Linked DNA regions of Homo sapiens: regions 2, 3 and 4 are each reported to be linked to region 1. Evidence: microRNA targets listed by miRTarBase, many of them from high-throughput screens and not tested one by one. Region 1 holds a microRNA gene; each other region holds the end of a gene's coding sequence.
The links. Region 1 holds the annotated microRNA hsa-miR-6857-5p (UUGGGGAUUGGGUCAGGCCAGU, at 2,119-2,140, opposite strand). A microRNA usually pairs through its seed, bases 2 to 8, with sites in the 3' UTR of a target mRNA and lowers its output. Matches are read on the target gene's strand: a 7mer-m8 pairs with bases 2 to 8, a 7mer-A1 pairs with bases 2 to 7 and ends in A, and an 8mer does both.

Region 1 (4,988 bases):
TGTTGCGCACACCAATCTCCCGACAAAACTCTTCAAACACCTCATCCTCTACCTGAGAAGAGAAGCCAGGGAGGGCATCGGCCCTTTTAGTCTGTCCTGCTTCCAGTCCCAGTCCTGCCCTGACACACACGCTGGCATGGCCCACACCCTACCAACCTGGTTCATCTTCTCCTTCAAGTCTTTCATTTCCCTCTCTCGGCTCTGAATGATCCTCTTGATATCATTAATGCGAGGCCCAAAGTTGGCTAGCTCACTCTCCAGCTTGGATTTTTCCTACAGGCAATGGGTTGAGAGGACAAAGCAGACCAGGCTCCTTGGAGAAAAAGCTACCTTGACTGCATTGGCCCCACAGTCAGGAAGGGCTAGCTCTCCACAACTGAGAGAACCTGGCTTAGCACTACTGCCCTAGTCAAGCCTCCATGATGTTGCACTGAAGCCATCACATGGCTTCTTCCCTGGCATCCAGTTCAGCCAGCTTCAATCCACAGGGCTGGGGACACAGTAAACATCATTAGGTATAGGTCCCAGTCTTTGATCTACAACCCCTGGGGGCAGAGTTGTTTCAGAATTCAGTTTAGATTTTTTGAGTTTAGAAAAAGATATATAAATACACACACTACATATAAAACCTCTAGGGCGGTCTGGGGAAGTAGTCAGTAAAAAAAACAAAACACATTAATATACCTAGAACAGTCCCCCCCCGCCCCGCCCACTACCACAAGCAGGGACTGAAATGCCCATAGCTCACTTTCAAAAATTCAAATTTGTTGAATGAATAAATTATGCTAACAATAGCACATAACATAAACTGAACACATGGTAGTCTTAAGCACTTTACATGTTAACTCATTCAATAATGACCCTATAAAGTAGGTATCATTTATTTATTTTGAGACAGAGTCTCGCTCTGTCACCCAGGCTGGAGTACAATGGCATGATCTCGGCTCACTGCAACCTCCACCTCCCGGGTTCAAGCAATTCTCCTGCCTCAGCCTCCCAAGTAGCTGGGATTACAGGCGCCTGCCACCACGCCCAGCTAATTTTTTGTATTTGTAGTAGAGACAGGTTTGGCCAGGCTGGTCTCCAACTCCTGACCTCAGGTGATCCACAGGTGATCCACCGTGCCCGGCCGAGTAGGTATCATCTTAACTCGCATTTCACAGATAAAGATGTGAAGGTTGACACTGAAAGGTGAAAATACTTGCCTAATGTCAAACTCAAGGCAGAGCCAAGCTCTGAACCCCTGGCTGTCTGACTCTATGCTATACCTGACTCCCTGCGGCAGGCTGGGAGGAGACGGGGAAGTGAAACAAGTTCCCCACCCCCAGAGAAACCTAGGCCAGGAATGTGTGGATGGCCTTTGGAGAACAGGGCTGAAGGCCAGGCCCCACCTGCAGATTCAGGGCTAGATGTCGTGTCTTGGTCTGTTCTAGGTCACTCTGGGAGTACTTGAGCCGCATCTGCAGTCCATGGGCCTGAGACTGCACCTGACGCAGCTCTGCCTCTTTCCGTTTTGCCTTCATCTGCTCCTGAAGGGAACAAGAAAGAAGGGCTAGGTGGTAAGGTGGTGGCTGACCTAGGCTTAGGACTCCCACTGCTAAAAACAGCACTGCCTGTGGCTTACTTTCAGCTCCTCTGTCAAGCGCTCCTTCTTCTCTTTCAACTTGTCTACTGCTTTCTCATCCCAGCGCCGTGCCTTGGCCTTCAGGTCACTGGCCCCACCAGAGATCACTCCTGACTTCTGGAATAGGGTTCCATCCAGTGCCACTGTCTACACACAGCAGGGGGAAGAGAGAAGAGGGGGAGAAGCTGAACAAATGAATCTCCAGTACTGAGCCTGTCCAGCTCCAGCCTGGGCAAGGGAATCCACACCTTGTGGCGCTGGTGGCCTCCAAAGGCAATGCGGCGGGCATCTTCCACGTTGTCACAGACAAGGGCATTGCCACAAGCATACTGCAGGGCCTTTTTGATATGAGGTGGCTCATAGCGAATCACATCAATCACTAGCTTGGCCCCCTTCAGCTCCCGGAGTTTCTCATCTGTAGGCTTCACCTGTGGGGAGAAGCTCAGTCAGTGGCAGAACACAAACAGGGAGTACTAGAGGAGGGGCCCTTGAACACTGGCCTGACCCAATCCCCAACAAGCCTCACCTCCAGGTAGTCAAGAGGCAAGAAGGTCTCAGGCTCCCCACGCTGCTCCTTGATATACTGAATACAGTCCCGGCCTGTCTTCTCCGAGTCCACAATAATGGCATCCATGTTCTTGCCCAAAACCTTGGTTACAGCAATCTGATACTTCTTTTGTGTGGGCTGGCATAGGTCAATGAGGCGGCCGTACTGAGTAAAGTAGGAAGGGAAAACTGAAGTATGAAGCTTTTGGAAGCTGGCTCAGGAATCCTAATTCCCAGTATGGAAAGGGGGACAGACTAGAATCTATATCAGGAAGTGAATGCAACTGTATTGCCTAGTGGTTAAGATAACCCAATACCAAGCATGGTAGTGTGTGTTTGTAATCCTAGCTACTTGGGAGGTTGCAATGGGAGGACAGCTTAAGCCCAGGAGTTCAAGACCAGCCTGGGCAACATAATGAGACCCTGTCTCAAAACAAACAAAAAAGACAGCCCACTAGTTCTGTACCCATGCAACCCTACCCTATCTGAATGAGACTGTATGGACTGAGGAGGAGGCAATTGCAGACTAGCTTGCTGTGTGCACTCCAGATCAGCACAGTGGCCAATCCTAACGTCCCTTTGAAAGGTGGAAAAGTTTGGGTAAGAGAAGGGAGGTAAAGAAATGAATAAATGAGTTATGTAATGAGGGAAACTCAGTATTACATTAACACCTCAAAAGAGGTTCAGAGCAAGAGATGATATTGTCTCTTAGCACAATTATCCCAGATGCCTGAAAGTATGAAGCTATGTTTGCCGAGAACACTCCTGGTTTTGGAACCTAACAAGATTGAATAGAAGCCTGCAAACCTGAATGGCCTCACCCTAGGAGACATTTTTACATGACATGATCATGGACTAGACTAATTATTAATTAATGACTCAGTGGGATTCTAGTAATGTGCCAGTATCTTTCTACTCTTTTTTGGAGACGGAGTCTCACTCTGTTGCCCACGCTGAAGTGCAGTGGCGCAATCTTGGCTCACTGCAACCTCCACCTCCCAGGTTCAAGTGATTCTCCTGCCTTAGCCTCCCGAGTAGCTGGGATTACAGGTGCCCGCCACCATGCCCGGCTAATTTTTGTATTTTTAGTAGAGACGGGGTTTCACCATGTTGGCCAGGCTGATCTCAAACCCCTGACCTCCGATGATCTGCCCGCCTCGGCCTCCCAAAGTGCGAGGATTACAGGCGTGAGCTACCGCTCCCAGCATCTTTCTATTTATTACATGATTGTTCTGATGTAAGGGATCTGTGTTTGAAGATCAAAGTGGACTGTGGTTTTATGAAATATATATTTAGTCTTCTACCCGTGAGTTCCTGACACACAACTCCTAAAACCCTTAGAATCTCAGGAATGAGCAGTGTCTTTTGTATGTTAATGAGATGATTATGGCTGGAGGCCCATAGATAGCTTCTGGATAGGGGCTGGTTACCAGAAAGACCAAGGCAGGATTAGATTTGGGACTCTTAGCTCCACCCCTACAACCTTCAGGAGGGGAGAGGGGCTGAAGGTTGAACTGATCACCGATGGCTGATGATCTGATCAATCATGACTACATAATGAAGCCCCTGTGTGGGGGTACCTGGAGGGTGGCTTGCCCAGATTGGGCATGGAAGCTTCACATCTCTTCTCCCATACCTTGCCTTATGCATCCATCTGGCTGTTCTCTGTATCCTTTGTAATATCCTTCATAATAAATGGGTAAACATAAGTAAAACATTTTCCTGAGTTCTGTGAGCTGCACTAGTAAATTAATCGAACCCAGGGAGGGATTCTCGGGAACTGTAATTTATAGCAGGTCAGTCAGAACCACAAGTCACAACCTGAGACTTGCAATTGGCACCTGAAGTCTTGGACTGAGCCCCTAACCCACAGGATCTGATGCTATCTCCAGATAAATAGTGTCAGAGCTGAAGTGAATTATAGGTCACCCAGCTGGTGTCTGCTGGAGAATTGCTTGGTGTGTGAGGAAAAACCCCCACACTTCTGGTGTCAGAAGTGAAGTGTTGTGCTGGTTGTGAGAGTAGAAAAAACACTTTGGTTTTTTCCTATCTCACAGAAGAACACAGCCCCCATGCTATCAAGGAAAAGCCTATTCTGGTTCCCAAGCAATGACTTCAGGCAGTCGTGTCTGAATCCAGAATCATCTTTCTAAACCTCACATCTACCATTTTACAGACCACCACCACCCAGGCACTATGCCAAGTATCTTATATATATTATTTCAAATTCTCACAAGCACTTAGCAAAATAAATCTGGCTGGGCGTGGTGACTCACGCCTGTAACCCTACCACTTTGGGAGGCCGAGGCGGGCAGATCACTTGAGGTCAGGAGTTTAAAACCAGCCTGGCCAACATGGTGAAACCCCGTCTCTACTAAAAATACAAAAAAATTAGTTGGGCATGGCGGCGAGCACCTGTAATCTCAGCTACTTGGGAGGCTGAGGCAGGAGAATCACTTGAGCCTAGGAGGCAGAGATTGCAGTGAGCCGAGGTTGTGCCACTGCACTCCAGCCTGGGCGACAGAGCGAGACTCCATCTCAAAATCAATCAATCAATCAATCAATCTCTTCTACCAGTTCCCTTCCTGCAGCCTCCAAAACCAAGCCTGGTTCCCTAAGAACTATCAGATTAAGGGGGCAGGGACTGACTCTAACCATACTTATCTCCCCAGCAGTGTCTAGAGAAGTGATAGGGAAATATTAGTGGAACCAAACTAAGTTGAACCCAGGTATGGGATAATATTCAGGGAACCTGGGAACTCAGGATTTGGTGAAAGAGGCCAAAAGATCAAGAGATCTGATAAAGCTCAGGGTGTCC
Region 2 (5,345 bases), not on the chromosome of region 1:
ATGTCAAGACAGAGAGGAGCAGGTCCCTGCGGGGACCCTGAAACTGTGATGACCTATGGCACGTATGAAACAGAAGTAGGCTTCTATTTGGGGTTTGAGGGAGGGCAGACACAGGCTGAGGAGAGTGGATAGGAGCAGGAGAACCTGCCACACCCCACACCCCACTGAGAGCTCATCAGCTGCAGCCCTGGGCCAGGTCCCCTGACTGTGTGTGTGTGGGGGGGGGGGCTGGGCACCAGCCATGGGAGGGGAAGAGCAGTCAGCCCTGGCCTCCCTGGCAGGCCTGGCACAGCATAGGCACGTGGGTCTGTTCAGAAGCAGCCCCCCTGGTAGGCCCAGAGACTGGGAAAAAGTGCTGTTTCCTGAGCAGCAGAAAGAGACCACCCAACCCTGACCCCAAGTCGTGGGCACAAGACTCACGCTTGCATAGTTGTGGTTGCTGTCTGGAAGCTGAAAAGATTTTCCTTGGGGAACCAGGTACGAATAGGGATGTCGTCTAAGAGAGACAAAAAGGAGCGGTGGCTGGGTGAAGTAGGGGTTCCTGAAGCCTCTCCCTCCCTGTTGGGAAGCAGATGCTTCTGGGTCCAGGGGTCAGCAGAAGCTGGCAGCCAGGGCGGGTGGGGGGAGGGTGGCATCCCCACACGGGCACAGAGGGCAGTGCTCGAATGTCTGCTGCTCACTCACCAAGACCACGCTCTTGGTAACTTGACGCTTTGATTTTTTTGGCTTAACTTTCCCTTTGGCCACCCAAAGTTTGAGAAACATTCCTTTGAAAGCACAGTCTGTCTCCAGGAGGCCCAGGAAAACAATGCGTCTGTTTCCCTTGGGCAGAAGAGGCTCTGAGGCCTTCTCTGCAGCCCCCATGCTCTAGCTGGAGGCCCTCACCGAGGCTAGAGACCACCTTGCTGAGGGCTGTCCCCTTCCGAGGGCCCCCACAGCCTTTCCCTGATGCCCAAGTGTGGGGACAGTGGAGTGACTTTCTGCCTGGTGGACAAGCTACCACACAACTCAACAACCCTGGGGAAAGATGCCCACTGCCTGGCTGGGCCCCAACAGCTCCCCAGGACTCTCGGAGGGCAGCCCAGTCTCCTGATTAAGCGGTGCTTCCTCCCTACATATCCCTTAAGATCCTCCCAGGCCCCCTCCTCCAGGAAGCACTCCTTGATTGACCTGGTGCTAGCAGGGCGAAAGCGGACTGTGAGGCCTGGCAGATTTTGCTGAGGAGCTGAGGGAGCTCACAGCTCATAGGGTGTGGAGGCCGCAGCAGAAGCCTGCCGGTTTTAATCTTGAGTCCGCTGGCATGCTGTGACCTGAGCACCTGTTCTCTGTTCCAAGCCTCACAGTGGCTGCTGCTGTCAGACCCTGGCAGCGGCATGCACCCCCAAACCTGTCTATGCCCTGACACAAACCCCTCACCAGACACACGGTCAACGCTGTACATCCTCTCCAGCTTCTTGCGGCGACCGGAGGTCTCAGGCAGAGGTGGCTGGTCCAGCCCAAAGGCCCGAGGGGTGGGGCCAGGAGCCAGCTGGGCACATCCGGGGCACTCCTTGGAGCCCTGGCGGCTGCCCGCCCAGCTCTGGCAGGGCCTGCTGACGTCCTCCCGGCTGCCACCAGGGCTGGCGCGCAGGGGCTGGCTGTGATGGTGAGGGTGCCGCTGCCGCCGCCCCTTCACCACCGCCAGCTCAATGGCCTCCGCCTCAGGGCTGGGCAGCAGGGCAGGCTCCCCAGAGATGGTGTACACTCGAGGCTGAGGGCCCTCGCCTGCGGGCTTCCTAATGCTGGGCTCCTCTGAGAGGCTGCCCTCGTAGCAGCCGTTGGAGACGAGGGACAGGCGGCGCTTGTTCTGGGGGGCCGGCTGCATCTCGGGGGACCCGTCGTGGCCAGAGTAGGCATCAGCCAGCAGGTGATCTAGGAGAGACACTGAGTGAGCCTGCCTGCCGCGTGTGGGCCCCCCGCTGCCGGTTTCATAGCAGGCCGAAGGCAGAGAACACCCAGTGGGCACCTGGCCTCTGTGGGGGACTAGGGCTGCCCAAACCCTAGTCACTGGCGTGTTTCTGAGCCCCTCACTCCTATCTGGGCCTGAAGCTCTAGCATGTGCGTGGGGGCTGGGTGACGCTGTGCTACCTGTGTGCGGTCCTGCCGGGTAGGAACACGCAGGCCATCCCCCAGCCTGCGATCGCACCGTTTGCCTGGTGCCAACTTCCCCCTCCCCCCACCAGCTGGCCCCCAGAGGCAGTGGTGCCAGCCCTGGGGGAGCCAGGAGGCCTGTTGCCATGCCAACGGCCCAGGCGGGGTGGGTGCCATGGTGACGAGCGGCTGGGAACTGCTCCTGGGGCTCGGGCAGGGAGGGCAGGGGATGTAAGGAAGCCAGGCCGGCAGGGCGCCGGGCCCACGCGCAACCAATGCCCCTCACGCTCCACCCCCGGAGGCAGGGATCAGCATCCCTTGGGCTGGGGGGTCTGGGCGGCCCTGGCACGGCCTCGCGTGCCCCTACCTGCGCCGTTGCGGTTCTCAGGGTGACTCTGGGACAGGTACTCTCCAAACGCTCGGGCTGCTCTGAGGGTGGACAGAGGGCACGGTCAGAGGCCACGGCACGACCCTCCCAAACACCGGGCCGCGCAAGAGCCGGGGGTCCGGTCCCCAGCCAGGCCCTCGGCGTCTGGAAGGAGGGTCGGGGTCGTCCCCCTCCGGGAGCCCACACACCCTTGGTCCTGGTGCGCCCTGGCCAGGCCTGCAGGCCCGGCCCCTGCCCGTCGGACCGTGGAGAGGGGTCGCGAGGCCGGTCGGCTGCTGTTCCCCGGGGGAACCGAGGCCACTCCCGACCTGGGGGGTGCGCTCGCCCACCACGCGCTCGCGAGGGGAGGGGAGGGAAGAGCAGGGCAGGGGACCAGGAAGAGGGAGGCGCGGGGCGCGGGGAGGGCGCCTCAGTGGCAGAGGCCGGGGCCCGGGAGCCCGGGGAGCACCGCGGGGCAGGGGCGGACTCGGGCGGGGTCGGAGGTCCAGGGCGGGGTGCGGGAAGGCGGCCCCGCCGCACTCACCGCACTTTGGCCGCCACCGAGGACATGGCCTCGCTCCTCAGCGCCCTCCTCCTGGAGGCGGCGGCGCCCATGGTCGAGGCGGCGGCGCATCCCCCGGGCCTCAGAGCGCGCCCCGCGCCCGCCGCCTCCGCCGGGGTAGCCGCGCCGCACCGGGGGTCGCGCTCGGGCTCGGGCTCGGGGTCTCGCTCGGGCTCCGGCTCGGGCTTGGGCTCGGGGTCGGGCTCGGGGTCGGGCCCGGTCCCCGCATGGCCGCACCCGGCGCTCCGCGCGTGCCGCCGCTCCCGGGAGAGCGCTGCCCGAACCGAGGGCCGGCCCCGCCCATCGTGACGTCAGGGCCCGGGCGGGCCCAGAGGGGCGGTCGGCCCCACCTACCGTGACGTCAGGGCCCCGGAGAGCTCGGAGAGGACATGTGGCCCCGCCCACCGTGACGTCCGGGCCCGGGTTGAGTTGGGGGCGGGGCCGGGCGGCCTGGCTCCGCGCCCTCTCGTCCAGGCCTCCAGAGCGGGGAAACTGAGGCCAGCGGCCCCCTGGTCGCAAAGTCCTGGGCCCTCGGCCCTCACGATCTGCTGCTCAGACCTGCAGGATCACAGGGAGGCCGGTTCTCCCTCCCCTTACACAAAAGGGCTCCCTGTGCAGTTTGGGAACTGGAAACCGAAGGGGAAGCCAGTTTAGGGGGCACCCAGTTTGCACGAGGCCAGAGAGAGACAGAGGGGCCCGTCCTGGTCCTGGGGGGCCACAGCTCTATGCAGACTCTGGACGCCCTACCTGCCTGGCCTGCATTTGCCGCCCTAGGGCTCTCAGGCCCCAGCAGTGGGGTCCTTTGAGGAGGACTGGGGACTGCCCAGCCTCAGGGACCACCCGCATCAGGGAGAACCAGTAGTGTTTCTTTGCCACAGGGACCTCGGCCCGGGAGACACGTCCAACAGTGAGATCCACCTTTATTGAAACATCACACGGCAGCATCAGGGCTCCCACACCTCACAGGGCAGCAGGCAGTTCACAGGACAGCAGGCAGTTCACAGGGCTTTGGGGGCCTCACAGGGCAGCAGGTGGTTCACAGGGCTTCGGGGGGCCTCACAGGGCTTCGGGGGGCCTCACAGGGCTGCAGGGGGTTCACAGAGCTTCAGGGGCCTCACAGAGCTTCAGGGGCCTCACAGGACTGCAGGGGGGCTCACAGGGCCCTGTATGCAGGGCTGCTGGTACAAAGAAGAGGCCCAGAGAACCCTAACACAGCCTGGGGCCCCGGGGAAGTCAGGGCTTCCAGCAGGGCAGGTACAGAGGCCCCTAGGACTTGGCAGGAGCCTCAGCCTTGGGGACAGTCCCACGGAAGACGCTGCATCCGGGCTCTTTAGCAGAGGCCTCTACCCGTCCTGGTCAGAGGAGCCCTCAGACAGTTTTGGGAAAGCCAGACTGGGGTGTCGATGCCGCAGTGAGGACTCGTCCTCCTGCAAGCAGACCGCATGTTCCAGGTGAGGACCAGGCAGGGCAGGGGCTCTGCAGCGCTGGTAACCCGGTGGGACCACAGGGAGGGAGTGGCCGGCACAGGGCCAGGCACCAAGGCTCAGCTGTGGGCACCAGGTGGGACCATGCCCAGCTCCTCACCAAGTCTGAGCCCTGCTGGGCTGAGGTGCTCTGGAAGTCTGCGTATGCATCCCTGGGGACGTCCAGCAGCTCCTCCTCGTACTCCGTCTGGTAGTCAGATTCGTCTGGCACCGAGGGTAGGGCTGCGTCAGTCCCCTCCCAAGGAAGGGACCGTACCCAGCATAGCCACACTCAGAGGCAGAACCGGCCACAGATGCCCACCCCCGCCTCCAAGGTGGCCCGGGGCCCTACACGCAGCCACCTGGTCCCAGGGCAGCCCTGCACACCACCCCTGGTTCTGTCTGGCTCCAGCTTTGCCCCAGCACATCACTTCGTGGGTCTTCCACAAGGACAAGGAGCGGGCAGACACTCCTCCCCTTGTCAGCCAAGCACCCTGAGGGCTCCAGCACCCCAGACCTGGCAACTGTGGATAGGGGCTGCCTTGCCCAGGGCCCTCTCGGCCTGCGGCAGCCATGAAGACGTCTCCCAGGAGAATGTCCAGTTCTGCTGTGAGGAGGCCACTGGCTGAAGGCCCAAGCGCAGGGCCCTGGATGGAGCATGGAGGGTAGTGGACCCGCCCTTCTTGTCCTGCGGCCCCTCCAACAAGCAGCCTTCATTCCCATTTCCCACTGGGTGGGGTGGGAGGCAAAACGTGGTTCTACTTCAGGCCTGAGGTGTGGCTGGGAGTTGAGGTGAATGAAGGGCAGGGGCTGGGTGACCCGG
Region 3 (5,996 bases), not on the chromosome of region 1:
GAGTTACAGAAATATGAATAACTAATGATCTTTTTCACTATTCATAAACCAGCATAATTTGGTCAAGCTCTAGTATTCTTCTGCTAAAAATAGAACAAACTCACACTGAATTTCTTTGGTGTCCTCTGTAATGTGCTCCTTTACCGTCATTCATTCACTTCATTTCTTCATTCAACACAGTTTTACCGGACACATATTTTGTGCCGGAGATCTTGCTGGACACAAGGAATACAGAGATGGTCAGAACAGAGTCCTATCTTTCCAAGAGATCTCATGCTTCTCTGAGCTGAACTTCTTTATCAGGATTCCTAACCACAGGGTGAACTCTGCTCTATTCCACAAACAAAGGTGCATTTATTGGTATCCCTGGTGTCACTTCCCTGCCTGTGATGTCAGTTCTCTCTCTGGACCCATTCCAGATCACACCCAGCCTAAAAGGTTACTTGGTGTACAGTGGAAAGTGTGACAGTCCAGGGACAAGCTAGAATTGATGGGTAAACTACCTCCCCACTCTGGGCTTCATTTCTTCACTGTAAAGCACAGGTTAGTGGGTGGGCTCTGGAGTCAGACAGCCTAGGGCCAAATGACTTTGGGCAAGTCATTTAACCTCTCTGAGCTTTAATTTCCTCATCTATAAAATAAGGATTGGCCAGGCATTGTGGCTTACACCTGTAATCCTAGCACTTTAGGAGGCCGAGGCGGGCAGATCATCTGAGGTCAGGAGTTTGAGACCAACCTGGCCAACATGGTGAAAACCTGTTTCTACTAAAAATACAAAAATGAGCCAGGTGTGGTGGTGGGTGCCTGTAATCCCAGCTACTTGGGAGGCTGAGGCAGGAGAATTACTTGATCCTGGGAGGTGGAGGCTGCAGTGAGCCAAGATCGCGCCACTGCACCCCAGCCTGGGAGACAGAGCAAGACTCTGTCTCAAAAATAAATAAATAAATAAAAATTAAAAAAATAAATCAATAAAATAAGGATCACAGGATATCTATCTTAGATACCCTGTTGTTCTAAGAATTGAATGAAATAATTCATCAGACGGGCTTAGCACAGTGCCTGGCATATAGTAAGTACTTAGTAAACGTTAGTTAAGAATATGACTGTATGACATTTTGCAACTAGTCTCCCCTCCTCTTGGAGGTGTCCCTAATTGGGTTAACCCCTTTGGGATTGTCCCTCTTCCAAATTCCGGCTGCCCTTCACAGTCAGTCATGTGATCATGTACTCTTGAGCACTGTTTGGCAGGCCTGAGGGTCGTACCCTTATCTTCCACTGCCTGTGTCAGTGCCGAGCACTTTCTAGCAGGAGCTTAATCAGTGTTTGTTGAACTCTAGATCTGTGGTCACGAACAAGTCATGGACGCTGCAAAGGCTCCTGCCCTTTCAAGAGCAGCTGAGATGAGGCCAGCCAAGCCCTGGGTGGAGGGGGCCAAGACCAGCCCAGGGCAGCACAAAGGGGTTGGGTTGTTCTTGAGCTTAGCATCAACTCTGCTTTTGGAGCGTCCAGAATAGGCCCCACTTCCCCTGGGCTTGTTGATTCTCTGGAAGGGCGGGTAGAAGTCTTGTTGTTTCCTTCTGCCCCAACAGGCCCTCCACGCCCTTCAGGAGGAGCAGGCCAGACTCAAGATGAGGCTGTGGGACCTGCAGCAGCTGAGAAAGGAGCTCGGGGACTCCCCCAAAGACAAGGTAAGGTGGGAGATCTGGTGTTGTTTGGTAAAAACGAGCTGGCGAGGCCGGGTGCGGTGGCTCACACCTGTAAACCCAGCACTTTGGTAGGCCAAGGGGGCCTGATCACCTCAGGTCAGGAGTTTGAGACCAGCCTGGCCAACACAGTGAAATCCCATCTCTACTAAAAATACAAAAATTAGGCCGGGCGCAGTGGCTCACGCCTGTAATCCCAGCACTTTGGGAGGCCGAGGCTGGTGGATCACCTGAGGTCAGTTTGAGACCAGCCTGGCCAACAGGGTGAAACCCCGTCTCTACTAAAAATACAAAAATTAGCTGGGTTTGGTGGCACATGCCTGTAATCCCAGCTACTTGGGAGGCTGAGTCCGAATTGCTTGAACCTGGGAAGTGGAGGTTGCAGTGAGCCAAGATCATGCCACTACACTCCAGCTGGGTGACAGAGCAAGACTCCCTTTAAAACAAAGAAACACAAAAAAGAGCTGGGGAGTTCTCGGTTTTATTCCTGGCTCTGCTACTTCCTTGCTGTGTGACCTCCATTATGTTACTTGAACATCTGTAAAGTAGAGCTACCCACCTCCCAGGACAAATTAAGATGTTGTATGTAAATTGCCCTGTATGGACCAGACCTGCATTCATCCACTCATTTATCCAGCTTTTCTTTCAGTAAATGTATTTATCTCCGGCACTCAGCATCAATGGAATGGAATCGGAGATGCCTTCCTCCTAGGTGGGAGTGAGGAACACTCCTACTCCCCTCCCCTACTTCCAGGTCCCATTTTCAGTGCCCAAGATCCCCCTGGTATTCCGAGGACACACCCAGCAGGACCCGGAAGTGCCTAAGTCTTTAGTTTCCAATTTGCGGATCCACTGCCCTCTGCTTGCGGGCTCTGCTCTGATCACCTTTGATGACCCCAAAGGTAAGCTCATGGGGAGCCTCAGGAGGGAGGTGGGGAGGGTTCCCAGTACTGACCCTGTTTCCCACCACCCAGTGGCTGAGCAGGTGCTGCAACAAAAGGAGCACACGATCAACATGGAGGAGTGCCGGCTGCGGGTGCAGGTCCAGCCCTTGGAGCTGCCCATGGTCACCACCATCCAGGTGATGGTATGACAGAATCCTGGGGCATGCAAAGCATGCCATGCACCTGGGCATGGGGAAGTGGAGCTGTGTCTGGGACCACCCCTTGCTGTCTCCCCCTAGATGTCCAGCCAGTTGAGTGGCCGGAGGGTGTTGGTCACTGGATTTCCTGCCAGCCTCAGGCTGAGTGAGGAGGAGCTGCTGGACAAGCTAGAGATCTTCTTTGGCAAGACTAGGAACGGAGGTGGCGATGTGGACGTTCGGGAGCTACTGCCAGGGAGTGTCATGCTGGGGTTTGCTAGGGATGGAGGTGAGGGCTATGCAGGCCTCCTGCAGGGGAGAGGGTATAGGGTGTGCAAGATTACGGTGCAGGGAGAGGAGAGGGCTTGATGCTAAAGGCCCACCCCTCCTTGCTCCCCACAGTGGCTCAGCGTCTGTGCCAAATCGGCCAGTTCACAGTGCCACTGGGTGGGCAGCAAGTCCCTCTGAGAGTCTCTCCGTATGTGAACGGGGAGATCCAGAAGGCTGAGGTAAGCAGGAGGGGTGAAGAACAGGGGCTGGGCTGGGTAACCTGTCTGCCTGCCAGGAACTTGCCCAATGAAGGATCAGAGGCCCCAAACCCCACTGACCTACCTACCCACCATCAGCCTCTCCAGGCCTCCCGACCTCATACCCCCATGGGGCACTGCCTGCCCTACCCCCAGCCCCCAGCCCTTCTCCCATGAGCCTTTGCCATCTCCTGGCTCCTTTTCCAGATCAGGTCGCAGCCAGTTCCCCGCTCGGTACTGGTGCTCAACATTCCTGATATCTTGGATGGCCCGGAGCTGCATGACGTCCTGGAGATCCACTTCCAGAAGCCCACCCGCGGGGGCGGGGAGGTAGAGGCCCTGACAGTCGTACCCCAAGGACAGCAGGGCCTAGCAGTCTTCACCTCTGAGTCAGGCTAGGGGCCTCCCCTTCTCATCCTCCCCACCCCCCCGCCAAGGTTCTCACACTGGCCTGGGCTTGGGTGCCCATATAGGAGGTCTGTATGTTCACCAACAGTGCGGAGGGGTCACACATTGCAAAACACTGCCCAGAACAGTAAAAAGAGCCTGCATGCCATGATGTTCTTCCTCATTTCACTCATGAAAGGAAACGTGATTTGGGCATGGAAAGAGGCAGGGGGCAGGAAGCAGCCCAGATCTTCTGCTGGCAGCACTAGCCTTCCAGGAGCTCACCTTCCCTCCACTCTCAGAGGCAACAAGCAGGACCCAGGGTTTGGCTTTTTATTGACACAAACACACAAAGGCAGCTGTGGTAATGGGGTGGTGGGGTACACAAAAGCAGAAATCGCACTTCACACATTTAGGCCTCATTTAGACAATGAGGAGGCTGAGCCTGTCCCTCCACCTCCCATTGCAATGGTTGGGGCAATAACCCTCCCTAATCCTAGCTCAGTGAGTAGAGGGAGTGACCTCCCTACCCAGGAAGTCCCCATTTTGGTTGCAATGGCCCAGGTCCTGACCATCCCACTCTGTACTTCCCTGCTCCATCTCCCCACCCATGTAAACAGAGTTTTGGGCTGAGTTTGATAAGCTGCCTCTCTGCTTTGAGAAGGCAGTAGGGCCTCCCCTAACTGCAAGGGGAATGTGCTTGGATTTTTACTTTGGTCCCAGTACAAGAAACAGACAGCACTGCCTTTCAGAGCTCTGGCTAGTAAATGCCACACATATCTGCAAGGCTGAGGAAGCTTCCCCGCCTTTCTCCTCAACCACCATAGAGACGGGACATGGCACAGACCACGATGAGGGCACCTGTTTTTGCCCTGCCTCCCCAGGAGGCTTGGGGCTGCCCCACCCAATGGCACATACACAGATTTTTGGCAGTGTTGTGGGACTGGGGAGGAGAGAAACCCCAGCTCCACCAGAACAAGGAAGGCACTGGGGAGTACAGGGGAGGAGAAGGAGGTGGGAAACAGGATCCTCCCTCCCCGCCGCCACACACACACAAGCACAGGTTTTCGTTGCTAAGGCACTGAGAACAAATCCAGAGAACTCAGTGAAGGGTGGGGGCTCTGTATCCTTCCCAGAGTTGTGACCTAGGGGAGTAGGTCTGATTCCCGCCCTGTTGGAAGAGGCAGCCTTGGTTAAGAATGGCAGAAAACCTGGAGATGGAAGAAGCCCAATTGTGCTTAAGAAGTTGGGGACAGAGGACGAGATTGGGAACTGGTCAAGCCCAGAGGCGGGCACTGGTCAGCCCAGGCTGAAGGGACACTAGGGAGAGACAGGTACATGCTGGACTCACAGAGATTGGCCCCATATCCTGAGCTGACGTTTCAATTCTTTGGGGAGGTGGCGGGGCAGGGACGGGAGGAAAGATGAGGCAGAGGTGAAAGCACATGGAACACAACAGGGGGGACTGGCTAACCTTGGCACAAAAGCAGCACAGCAGGCCCGGGGAAAGGGTGGGGGCAGGAAGCAGCCGGCCTCCCTCTGACCCTCCCTGTCGCCTTGGCAGGGCCCAGACATCCAAATGGTCACTTCCCAACCTCTTCAGAGGTCAGGAAGCGGGGAGGGGCAGGGGAGAGCGGTCATCACCACAGAGACCTTCGGGGGAGGGAGGGCAGAGCATTATGACAGAGGCTGAAATGCAAGTCTGGTGGCCAACAGAACGTAGCTTCCCAACTTCTCCCTTCGCTGGTCTCTAGGGTCTCACAGCCACTTGCCCTAGTTCTCCTTCTCTGGCCCTGGAACCAGGAGGACCTTGCCCACATTCTTCTTCTCCTGCATCTGTTTCATGGCATCAGCCACCTGGGGAGGAAGGAAAGATGCGGCTCCCAGTGCTATCCAACCCTCATCCAACAAGAGCCAGTGTGATGCAGGCAGCCCTCCTCTTCCCCAGGAATCTGCCCCTTGGGACCCCAGCCTTCATGAGTCCTACCCAAGCCCTCCCTGCAAAGTCCTCACATTCACCTTCTCGAAGGGCCAGACTGAGTCAATGTGGGGCTTGATGTGGCCCTGGTTGTACAGAGCCAGGAGGCGGGCCACCACACCACTGACCAGCTCCACCTCACCATCCAGGTAGCCCAGGTGGAAGCCACACACAGCCCGGTTGGCCTGCAGCAGCTGCAGAGCTGTCACGCTGAACTGATTCCACCATGTCCGGGCCAGGGCCATCAGGTTCCGTTTGGGGCCCGTCAGCAGGTTGGCCATTCCTGAAGGACAAGGTGACATAGCCTGTGAACCCCCCCA
Region 4 (5,996 bases), not on the chromosome of region 1:
CAGTTTGCAAATAAAGCCCCTGGAGCTAAGATTTCCTATCATGTGTTAGCCGCCTCCAGGATACATAGGGGCAGGTGGGAGTACCAGCTCTTGTACTTGCAAGAGTGGATTCAACTTCAGCCAAACTCCTTGCAGAGTGACCGAAGGAAGCACTGAGGGTCTGAGGAACGAGAGGGAACAGAGATTTACTGAGGAGAGTGTGACCTCCCGTCATAGCGCTATTGCTGTTACTTGGGTAAATTAAGTAGAACCTCTCAGTAAGGAAACTTGGTCAAAGGTATTCCAGCAGTCTTCCTGTGAAACCATGCTCACTGATCACCACCCTCAAAGTGCAGCCCAGCTTCCTCAGCCCAGCTGGTGCAGCCACCCAGCCCACAGCCCCACCACCTCCTCCCGCCACCCCATGGCATCTCAGGTCCTCTGTGGGTACAAAACTGAGTAGGAACCAGTCCCTCTCCTAAGACATACTGGGATAGTGCCACGGGACATGTGTGTGCACATCTGCAGGAAGGGCCGCAGGAGCGGTCAGGGCCAGCCCCGCCAGGTGGTCATGTGGAAGACCCTCACCAAGCCCACAGCCGTGGAGGCTGGAGGCGAGTGCTGCTCTGAGAGCCCATGACAAACCCACTCCCCCCGCCAGGCTGTCTTCTGCTGATGACGGATGATGGTTTTACATGAAGCATCTGCATTTGTATTTAATATATTCACTTTTCAGGAATAAAGAGGGATGTTCCCACATGCATTTTTTCCAGGGTATTTTACCGACTCCTGTAGTAGCCACCCATTATACAACCCAGCAGAACTGGAAGAAAAGGATGCCATCGGAGTGAGGAGGGCAGCCCAGAGGCGTCTGCAAGCAGAGCTGGGAATTCCTGGGGAGCAGGTACACACAGCATCCAGTCTCAGCTGTGTCCACGGGAGTCCAGGTTGGCAGCGGGCAGACGGTGAACAAAGTCCAGGCTGGATCTACACCATTGACCTCATGAAGCACCATGAGGATGAAGGATGGGGCTGTGGATGGGGCTGTGAATGAGCTGTGAATGGGGCTGTGAATGGGGCTGTGAATGTAGCTGTGGATGGGGCAGTGTGAGTCCCTATGTGTCCCAGGCAGGGTTGAGACTGTGCAGGAATCTGTCGACCACACACCGAAGAGGAAATTCAAGCCGGGCGTGGTGGCTCACGCCTGTAATCCCATCACTTTGGGAGGCCGAGGCGGGCGGATCACAAGGTCAAGAAATCAAGACCATCCTGGCCAACATGGTGAAACCCCGTCTCTATTAAAAGTACAAAAATTAGCTGGGCGTAGTGGCACACGCCTGTAATCCCAGCTACTTGGGAGTCAGAGGTTGCAGTGAGCCGGGATTGTGCCACTGCACTCCAGCCTGGCGACAGAGCGAGACTCCATCTCAAAAAAAAAAAAAAGAAAGAAATTCAAGTGTAGAAAGAATGTCCAGGATCCTGTGAGCATGTGTTACCTTCATCCACTCAAGAACACGTTTAAGAGAGGATGGATGTTCTCCTGACAACGCTAGCCGGTTTCTACGGGGTTTTCTGTTGAGGATGTGTGTGTGACACGGTTAGTTCTTTAAATGAAGACAGACAGGTTTACTGGAACCAAGAAACCAAAGCCGGTTTATCATTCAGACTTGAGTCCACAAAAATTTACTTAGCTAAAATCGAGGTTTTGGAAATTATCAATTACCAAAGAAAGTGTTCATTTTCTGAGGAAAACAAATGTGTTTATTTTCTCTATTTTTCTGTAAATTCTGTGTTTTACATTAGCGTTGTTAACACTGCACCAATTTCTGTCAATAGATTTCTCCAGAGGACATTGTGTTCATGACAATCTATCACCACAAGGCAAAATCAGACAGAATTTGGGGAGAGCATGAAATTTGTTACCTTCTGCTTGTGAGGAAAAACGTCACTCTGAACCCGGATCCCAGTGAAACGAAAAGCATCCTCTACCTGTCCCAGGAGGAGCTGTGGGAGCTGCTGGAGAGGGAGGCGAGGGGTGAAGTCAAAGTCACCCCCTGGCTAAGAACCATTGCCGAGAGGTTTCTGTACCGGTGGTGGCCTCACCTGGATGACGTGACCCCGTTTGTGGAGCTTCACAAAATACACAGAGTGTGAGAGGCAGGGAGGTCGAGTCAGCCATGTGTAATGCCCTCAGTGCAGGCAGACGCACCATTGAGGCAATGATACACCCTCTCCAAAAAACAGGGCAAAAGGGGCACTTGATTGCCCATCATGTATAAATCACTATTTCAACCTTTTCATCAACTTTGTCATATCTTCATTTTCCCTTTTCCTTATTTCCATATTTCTCATCTGCCTGGTTGCAGGGAGGAAATTTAACATTTCCTTTGTCCCAATTTCCATTTTATAAGCACTTGTTTGATTAACAGCAGCTGATCCTGAAAGTCTTGGGGAGATCTTGAGAGTCCTGAAGCAGGCGGACTAGCCTGGCTGGACCATGAGGCTGTCTCCCCACAGCTTTATCCAAGCCTCCAAGGTCAGGATGGGATCTCTGTATCATGTTTTTCTTTTTAAATCACTTATTTCAGAGTGCAACACAAGGCTGCATTTTTAAAAAAAAGACACATTCAATCTTGCATCCTAATACAAGCAGTACGGAAGATGCGTATGGTCTCAGCCAAGTGACTCGACGTTTATCCACTTCTGTTCATTTGATCGTTTCAGTAATATGCTTACAAATAAAGACATACTTGCTTTAAAACATACTGTTGTTGTTTAACACAAAGTAAACTATATGTTAAGTTTTGGTGTTTAATACGGAGAAAGAATTTCAAAAACCAGACCTGGTATTTTTTTTTTTTTTTTGAGATGGAGTCTCGCTGTCGACCAGGCTGGAGTGCAGTGGTGCGATCTTGGCTCACTGCAAGCTCCGCCTCCCGGGTTCAAGCCATTCTCCTGCCTCAGCCTCCCAAGTAGTTGGGACTACAGGCGCCCGCCACCACACCCAGCTAATTTTTTGTATTTTTAGTAGAGACGGGGTTTCACCGTGTTAGCCAGGATGGTCTCGATCTCCTGACCTCGTGATCCGCCTGCCTCGGCCTCCCAAAGTGCTGGGATTACAGGCATGAGCTGCCGCGCCCGGCCATACTGTTGTTGTTTAACACAAAGTAAACTATATGTTAAGTTTTGGTGTTTAATACGGAGAAAGAATTTCAAAAACCAGACCTGGTATTTTTTTTTTTTTTTTCACACGGAGTCTCTCTCTGTCACCCAGGCTGGAGTGCAGTGGCACGATCTCGGCTCACTGCAACCTCCGCCTCTGGGCTCAAGCAATTCTCCTGCCTTAGCCTCCCGAGCAGCTAGGATTACAGATGCCCACCACCACGCATGGCTAATTTTTGTATTTTTAGTAGAGATGGGGTTTCACCATGTTGGCCAGGCTGGTCTCGAACTCCTGACCTCCTGATCTGCCCACCTCGGCCTCCCAAAGTGCTGGAACTACAGGCTTGAGCCCCTGCGCCCAGCCCAGCCCTGGTAAATTTTTAAAATTGCCACATGTAATCCAGAAGTGTGATTAACTAAAGTCCTTTCCTCAGCTATAATGTTGATTGTGTGACTTGATAACTTATCCGTGGTGGCTCTTGGACCCCTGTGTGTCTTTGGAGCTCCAGGAGCACACGGACCCCTGGGCAGGTCCCTCCGACCCCACAGCTCTTCACCCCAACGCTCCCCAGCAGGTGCTTTTGAGGTGGCATTGGCGGTGTTTTTGTGTTTTACTGAACATGTAACTTCAGGGACGGGCCACAGAAATAGGAGAATGCCCATATTTAATTGCCTAATGCCTCCAGCAACATTTTACTCCCCCAAAAGTATTTTTGCTTTAAAACAAAATAGAAATGTCATGTTGTTTGCCTTTTTATTTGGCCAAATCCATAGCGACTATAACTAAACCAAAACATGAGCTAAGTAAATGAAAACTACTTTCTTCTGGAGGTTTATTTTGGATAAAATAGTTGAAGACAGACTACAATGAGACATTGTAAAATAAGACTAGAAAATAATTTAAGAGCGTATTTTAAGCACGGGATTCCGACACACTCATAAACGTGTTTGCTCCCAGCTCTTACAAAAGAAAATAAGGTTTTTCTCCATCAAAAACAACCTAGTTAAACCAGTAAATCTTCCCAGTTCTGAAAATCTGAAGCAACTGATACTCCATTAAATGTGGAAACACTGTCTACTCAAAATATTTGTAATATTATGCAGTGACAAAAATTTCCCACACCTATATAGGGTTAACCATAGTTTTCAGCAAAGCAACAAGTGCTTTACTTATTTTGTCTTTTTCAGTTTATACAGAGCTCCAATTTCATGAAACCATACTGTGCCAAACCAGGAAATAAACAGCAACACTCTAGCGAAGCCACGCCAACCAAACGGATACTATCTCCTGTCCTTTTTACCAGCTTTCCTCTTCCCAGACAGCAAGTGCTTGGGCTTCATATCAAACACGTGTCTATCCGCCTCCCCTTTCTTCCCCAACCGATTCATCTTCTTCTGAGCATTCTTCATCATAGTCTTGGCTTTCTTCACCATCTAAAAGGAGGAGAAAAAAATAAAGTATGTTCATTACTTAAAACCAATTTTCCATTCTGAATTTCAACTACTGGGTAACAATCTGTTTAATGGCTCAGGTCTGCTCAGCGAAGAGACCCTGTTACATCTCTTTTCTCTTAAGCCCAGCACAGTTATCCCTGTTACATCTCTTTTCTCTTAAGCCCAGCACAGTTACCCCTGTTACATCTCTTTTCTCTTAAGCCCAGCACAGTTACCCCTGTTACATCTCTTTTCTCTTAAGCCCAGCACAGTTATCCCTGTTACATCTCTTTTCTCTTAAGCCCAGCACAGTTATCTGCAGGAACTCAATGAGTATTTTTGTATAAAGACTGGATGAAAATCATACCCAGGACAAGCTTTATACCCAGGACTAGATACACTTTAGACCTAGAAGGTTAGCACACATCTGTTTTAACTCCCTCTTACACAAGCTAAGGACTCAGGCCCATGAACCTGTTTTCCTCAGGTCTGACTGACAAGTGGCAATGCCAATATTAACAGCCAGGTTTCAAGATGGCAATGGCACAGAGGAGTGAAGCTCAGGCTTCCATGAAGGAGACTGCAGTTTATACACAGACTCTCCTGCATCTCCATTACCACAACGCTGAAACTAAAAGTTGTTGTGTTTAATAAAAGGACGTTTCAGCAAGACAGACTGTGTCCATCTTAAGTGTCTTTGCCAAAAGACGCTACAAATAAACTAAATGTGACTCAAGCTCTCCACCTGGGGGGAACAATCCTGCAACCTAAGGATGAGCAGGATCACCCGCCAATCAACCCAGGAGTTCCCTCTGCTGTTCCTCCCATGGGGGGCTTGCTGGACTTGAGGCCTCCTGGTGCTCAGCTGTGGCCACTTCCTGGCCCTCTTCAGACAGCAGGGTCTAAGCCCAGACTGCTAGTGCTGTCAGACCATGCTCTGGCCACCCTCCGCAAAAGCAAAGTGCCAAGGAGGGGTCCATCCAGGGCAGCTGTCAGGGGCATCCACCTGCACCCTGACCCGTGCTCTCCTCTAAAGGATGCCACAAAACGAGGGCATGCAGTACACACAACCCCTGCCATAGTTCCTGCAAATGGCAACTGCTGGTGTTTGCCCTGAACCCTGTGCAATAAACAACAGAGACTGTCATTTTATTACATTACACAACACAGAGACTGACCTTGACATCCCTAAGACCAGAAACGTCACGTGGAGTTCGAGAGCAACTCCCACTCCGGGCCACAGAGGACGGGGGAGCAGAGTCTTCCCGCTTTCTTTTCCTAGTGATGCTCCGGGATCTTCTTGCCTGGACTGCGTAATGGGCCTGCAAAGCAGGGGAAGCAATGCTCAGCGCTCAGGACCCCAGGTCCACTCCCAGGCTCAGTGCTCAGCGCTCAGGACCCCAGGTCCACTCCCAGGCTCA

Region 2: miRTarBase lists PNPLA7 as a target of hsa-miR-6857-5p. Seed matches in the 3' UTR shown: 7mer-A1 at 4,351-4,357.
Region 3: the mRNA of VAT1 is a reported target of hsa-miR-6857-5p. Seed matches in the 3' UTR shown: 7mer-A1 at 5,089-5,095 and 7mer-A1 at 4,945-4,951.
Region 4: the mRNA of GTPBP4 is a reported target of hsa-miR-6857-5p. Seed matches in the 3' UTR shown: 7mer-A1 at 2,427-2,433 and 7mer-A1 at 1,878-1,884.

What each region holds. Positions count from the first base shown.
Region 1 is chrX:53,403,621-53,408,608 of GRCh38, forward strand. It overlaps MIR6857 (microRNA 6857), which reads right to left and starts at 2,145; the gene lies at 2,053-2,145. SMC1A (structural maintenance of chromosomes 1A) reads right to left here. Exons shown (of 25, transcript NM_006306.4): 10 at 2,151-2,336; 11 at 1,873-2,052; 12 at 1,625-1,771; 13 at 1,392-1,529; 14 at 157-273; 15 at 1-52.
Region 2 is chr9:137,455,991-137,461,335 of GRCh38, forward strand. It overlaps PNPLA7 (patatin like domain 7, lysophospholipase), which reads right to left. Exons shown (of 35, transcript NM_001098537.3): 34 at 4,644-4,747; 35 at 3,962-4,486. The coding sequence ends at 4,403. It overlaps NSMF (NMDA receptor synaptonuclear signaling and neuronal migration factor), which reads right to left and starts at 3,344. Exons shown (of 16, transcript NM_001130969.3): 1 at 3,042-3,344; 2 at 2,498-2,559; 3 at 1,417-1,911; 4 at 421-496. The coding sequence starts at 3,112. RefSeq lists enhancers at 1,528-2,225, 5,049-5,345 and silencers at 2,865-3,134, 3,225-3,574.
Region 3 is chr17:43,010,590-43,016,585 of GRCh38, forward strand. VAT1 (vesicle amine transport 1) reads right to left here. Exons shown (of 6, transcript NM_006373.4): 5 at 5,718-5,959; 6 at 4,018-5,555. The coding sequence ends at 5,472. IFI35 (interferon induced protein 35) reads left to right here. Exons shown (of 7, transcript NM_001330230.2): 2 at 1,590-1,688; 3 at 2,458-2,605; 4 at 2,678-2,784; 5 at 2,887-3,073; 6 at 3,187-3,293; 7 at 3,519-3,867. The coding sequence ends at 3,710. Among named protein-coding and RNA genes, the nearest start is that of IFI35, 6.8 kb to the left of the region's middle.
Region 4 is chr10:1,015,654-1,021,649 of GRCh38, reverse strand. GTPBP4 (GTP binding protein 4) reads right to left here. Exons shown (of 17, transcript NM_012341.3): 16 at 5,754-5,897; 17 at 1,718-4,575. The coding sequence ends at 4,423. IDI2 (isopentenyl-diphosphate delta isomerase 2) reads left to right here. Exons shown (of 5, transcript NM_033261.3): 4 at 753-883; 5 at 1,816-2,740. The coding sequence ends at 2,133. Among named protein-coding and RNA genes, the nearest start is that of IDI2-AS1, 4.0 kb to the left of the region's middle.